2 separate regions of the Homo sapiens genome follow, and region 2 is linked to region 1. The links come from fine-mapping of genetic effects on gene expression. Tissue or cell type: thyroid. Region 1 holds a variant in brackets; the other region holds the start of a gene. All regions are shown on one strand. Distances are from middle to middle.

What was found. PIP is the estimated chance that this variant, and not a neighbour inherited with it, causes the effect.
Region 2: CYP2C8 starts here. The variant in region 1 is the best candidate, but not a certain one, in a credible set for the expression of CYP2C8 in thyroid (GTEx, PIP 0.72).

What each region holds. Positions count from the first base shown.
Region 1 is chr10:95,114,181-95,117,041 of GRCh38, forward strand. The region is part of intron 8 of LOC107984257 (a long non-coding RNA gene); the gene reads right to left. Among named protein-coding and RNA genes, the nearest start is that of CYP2C8, 46 kb to the left of the region's middle. The variant G/C (reference allele first, on the strand shown) is at 1,272.
Region 2 is chr10:95,068,329-95,071,008 of GRCh38, forward strand. CYP2C8 (cytochrome P450 family 2 subfamily C member 8) reads right to left here and starts at 1,169. Exons shown (of 9, transcript NM_000770.3): 1 at 907-1,169. The coding sequence starts at 1,074. RefSeq lists a promoter at 1,074-2,680.

The DNA.
Region 1 (2,861 bases):
GTCATGGAGATTGTCTTAAACGCTTTCTTGTAGTAGTTTCATAATTTGAGGTCTTAAATTTAAGTCTTTAATCTATTTTGATTTGATTTTTGTATATGGCAAGAGATAGGGGTCTAGTTTCATTCTTTTGCATATGGCTATCCAGTTTTCTCAGCACCACTTATTGTAGAGACTGTCTTTCACCCCAGGTATGTTCTTGGCACCTTTATCAAAAAGGAGTTTGCTGTAGGAGAGTGGATTTATTTCTGGGTTCTCTATTCTGCTCCATTGATCTATGTGTCTGTTTTTATACCAGTGCCATGCTGTTTGGGTTACTATAGCTCTGCAGTATAATTTGAAATCAAGTAATGTTATTTTGCTTAGAATAGCTTTGGCTATTCTGGGTCTTTTATGGTTCTATATAAATTTTAGAATTTTTTTTCTATTTCTGTGAAGACTGTCATTGGTATTGTTATAGGAATTGCATTGAATCTGTAGCAATGCAAGGAACTGCATGCTTTGGGCAGTATATTTTAACAATATATATTTTTACAAAATGGGTTCTCCCAATCAATGAACATGAAATTTTTTTCACTTTTTTGTGTCCTCTTCAATTTCCTTCATCAACGTCTTATAGTTTTTAGTATAGAGATCTTTTACTTCTTTTGTTAATTCCTAGCTACTTAATTTTCTGTGTGGCTATCATAAATGAGATTACTATTTTTTCTTTTTCACATTGTTTACTGTTAGCATAAAGAAATGTTACTAAGTTTTATATCTTGACTTTGTATCCTGCAACTTTACTAAATTTGTTTATCACTTCTAATAGTTTTCTTGTGGAGTCTTTAGGTTTTTCCCAATATAAGATGTATCATCTGCAAACAAGAATAATTTGACTTTTTTTCCAACTTGGATGCCTTTGATATTTTTCTTTTGTCTGATTGCTCTAGCTCAGACTTCCAGTAATATGTTGAATAACTATGGTGAAAATGGGCATCCTCATCTTGTTCCAGATCTTAGAACAAAAGCTTTCTGTCTTTTCCCATTCAGTATGTACTAGTTGTGGGTCTGTCATATGTGCTTTTTATTATGTTGAGGTATGTTTCTTCTATTCCCAATTTTTTGAGAGTCTTTATCATGAAGGGATGTTAAATTTTATCAAATGCTTTTCAGCATCAATTAAATGATCATATTGTTTTTATTCTTCATTCTGTTGAAACAATGTATTACACTGATTGATTTGCATATGTTGAACCATTTTTGCCTCTCAGGAATAAATCCCACTTGGTCAT[G/C]ATGGACATTTGTAATGTACTGTTGAATTCAGTTTGCTAGTATTTTGTTGAAGATTTTTGCATCAATGTTTAACAGTGATATTGCTCTGTAGTTGTTTTCATATGAATCTTTGGTTGGTTCTGGTATCAGGATAATACTGGCTTCCTGGAATGACTTTGAAAGTATTCCCTCTTCCTCTATTTTTTGTAATAGCTTGAGTAGGACTGGTATTACTTCATCTTTAAATGTTTGGTAATATTCAGCAGTGAAGACATCAGGTCCTGGGCTTTTCTTTATGGGAAAACTTTTTATCCTGACATTGATGTTATTACCTGTTGCTGGTCTGTTCAGGTTTTGGATTTCTTCCTAATTCCATCTTGGTAGGCTGTTTGTATCTAGGAATTTTTCCATTTCTTTTAGATTTTTAAATTTATTGGCATGTAGTTGCTCATAGTAGTCACTAATGATCTCTTGAATTTCTGAAGTATCAGTTGTAATGTTTCCTTTTTCATTTCGGACTTTGTCTATTTGGATCTTATCTCTTTTTTTTGTTAGTCTGGGTAAAGGTTTGTCAATTTTGTTTAAGTTTTCAAAAAAAACAACTTTTTGTTTCATTGATTTTTTTGTAATTTTGTAATTTTAGCTTTATTTATTTCTGCCTTGATATTACCATTTCTTTTCTTCTATTAATTTTGGGTTTGGTTTTCTCTTTTTTAGTTCTTTAAGATGTATTGTTAGATTGTTTATTTGAAGTTTTTTCTCTTTTCTGATGTAGGCACTTAATAGCTACAAACTTCCCTCTTAGTACTGCTTTCGCTGTAACCCATAGGTTTTGGTATAATGTGTTTCCAATAACATTTCCTTCAAAAAATTTTTGAATTTCCTCCTTAATTTGCTCATTGACCCACTGGTCATTCGGGAGCATATTGTCTAATTTACATGTATTTGTATAGTTTTCTAAATTCCTCGTTATTAATTTCTAGTTTTATTCCGTTGTGGTCAGAGAAGATGCTTATTTTTTCAATTTTTTGAACATTTTAAGACTTGTTTTGGTACATAACATGTGGTCTATTCTTAGAGGAGACTTTATTAAACAAACTTATAGCACATAAGGACCACAATATACAAACCTGAATGGGAGATGGAATTCAGTGAGCATAAGGACCTATGTATCATTAGGATGATATACATTGCTAGATAACTAATGCAATGCTTGTGCAAAGGTATGTACTGTAGAGATATTAACATATTTATTTTAATTTTTTATCATATTTATTTTAAATTGGTCAGCATAATTATTCTAAGCTGTTTTATAAGGAAAAATTGAGTTTTTGTCAAGACTCCACTTACACAATGTTTAACCCTCAGGTTTTCAGGGACTCTGATAATTCACAGAGAATGTTCACTCCCATTATATCACTTTTGATTCTCTCAATTATCTTCACCTATGGTAAAATCATCCCCATTTTAAAGATGAGGATATCAAGACTCAGGGACTTATCATCTGCGCCAAGAACATGGTGTCTGCAAGTTGTAGAGCAGAGGCTAGTACCCATAACCTTTGCACCTCAAAAACTTCTCTCTAAGCAAATTATTCAGTTCAACATTCA
Region 2 (2,680 bases), 46 kb before region 1:
CAATTTCTTCCATTCTCCAGCAACCTTGGCCACAGACAGTGGCTTTCTTCAGAATCCAAAAGAATTCTGTTAACTACCTATTGGGCCCTGACTGATTACTTCTTTCTTTCATGCACTTATGTTTGCCCTGAACCCACAGATATTTATTTCACATCAGCCATCAAATGAATCTTCAGAGAAGTTCAATTTTCATGACCATTCTGAATAAAACACATGACTACTATAGTAGAGAACTTATTGGATGAAATTTCTAATCACACACACTTCCCTTCACCTTCAGTCAAAAATCATAGCAAAACACTGTGAAACAAAGAGGAGAAACAGCACTTTAAACTTTTGCCACTGTATTAAATGATTATATAATACAATGACCCCAATGTTTCTGTATTCACAAAATGCATCAACTCACTCCGCTATTTCTGACAATGACAGACTTAGAAAGACAAAAGAGGCCAGGTACGGTGGCTCACACATGTAATCCCAGCACTTTGGGAGGCCAAGGCAGGCAGATCATGAGGTCAGGAGACTGAGACCATTCTGGCTAACACGGTGAAACCCTGTCTCTACTAAAACATACAAAAAATTAGCCGGGCATGGTGGAGGGCACCTGTAGTCCCAGTTACTCGGGGGAGGCTGAGGCAGGAGAATGGTGTGAACCTGGGAGGCAGAGCTTGCAGTGAGTGGAGATAGTGCCACTGCACTCCAGCCTGGGCAATAGAGCGAGACTCCGTCTCAAAAAAAAAAAAAATAGGAAGACAAAAGAAACATCAAAGAAGTTCAGAGGGAGTATTTTGCTTTACAATGATCTATTATAATAGTGTGCTTCCAGGAATATATTTTGTCTAAAAATAGCAGTCAAATAACTTACCCTTTGCAATTGGCTGGAGGAACATAAGGCAGACTTACATTGGTGAAAGATTTGCAGATGTCCTTAACATCTATCTGTAGCATATTTCCAATAATAGGAAGAGGAGTGGGGCCAGGAGGGAGCTTCCTTCTCCTACAGCTCTGTCTCCAGAGTGAAAAGAGAAGCATAAAAGAGAGACACAGCACCAGGACCACAAAAGGTTCCATTGAAGCCTTCTCTTCTTATTAAGACAGCTGTGAGCTTGCACTCCAAAGTTTTTATAACACTCCCTGCTAATTTAGTGTGTGTCTCTTTGACATGTAAAGTAAACAATCACCTAGATCCAATTTATACTTTTTTTCTGAGTGGACTTTGGCCCATGGATAGAAATAAAATGTTCTTTTGTCCTACTCCTTCTTTCCAGTGCCAATCTAGGAGATTCTGGTTTAATTGTATTGGATTGGAGCCCAGGTATTTTTAATTAAAAGTCCCTGGTTGTTCCAATGTGCTGTGATGATGGAGAAACACTGAAGTAAATGATTCTATGTTAGAATATACTCAAAATTCAATATTCTCAGATTAATGACCAGTTGGGAATTTATGACCTTGAGGGAAATCAGTGTATTCTATATTTTGTGTATAAAAAATGTACATTGTAATGCTATATCAAAAAATAGGAGACTTAGCCCTTGATAACAAAAGCCTTTCAAATATTTAGTATAGTTCACTTAAAATACAGCTGCCTAAACATGAAATAGTGAATATAACTCATACATGTTGAATTACCATACATATATCAAATTATTAGCTAATAAATGTATATTTATATATATTTAAATGTATATAAACAATATACATAAATATATATGTTATTACATAATAATATTTGTGTTATTATTACATTATTATAATAATAGGTGATTATTTACTTTACATGTCAAAGAGACAAACTGAATTAGCAGGGAGTGTTACATACATTATTACATAATAATAACATAAATACATATTTATACTATTAAATATTATATTAAATATATAAAAGTATATATATAAATGTATATTCATCATTAAAAGAGACTGGAGTATAAAGATTATCATTTTTTATTTTTCAAATTGGGAAAGAAACTCTGGGAGAACAGGACACCTGTCAGTGCCACACAGCTCATTGCCGGTAAAACCGGGATTTGAGCAGAGATCTTCTGATACCCATTGGGGTTCATTACCACTTACACCACAGCTGGCTCAAGAACAATTTTAGAAAAACAAAACAAACCCCAGACATTAGTTACTCTGAAGATACGCCACCTTGACTCTGTTCAGAAAGCAACAGGCTTCACATTAAATAGAAGTCCGTTATTTGTTTATAAGGATAAGAGGACCGGAGACGCTCAAAAGAAGAAATAAAAATTAGAGTTCTCCCCTCTGCATCACCTCACAAGTGAAAGTTGTTCAGCACTATTAAGGAAAGGGCCAATCTCACATAATTTATGGCACAGGGCTTGAAAATCTATGGCTTCTCCACCTTCCAGTCACCTCCAGACATGGCTGCTTCTATTGTTTTTGGTCTGTTATTGTTACAAATAATAGAATGTAATCATACACAGCAAGGAAGAGAAATTATACACAGAACAACAGTTGTGGATTCAACAGAAGATGGAACACAGGGAAATCACTGAATGGACCCAGGGCACAGAACCACTGCAATGTGCAGACCTGAAATGGGAACTGATAGTCAATGGTCATGAAGATCTAAATACAACTGGATTTATGAACATTACTAGATCACTAATAACAAAGTGTGTATACAAAGGCATGCTCTGAAAAGATTACCTT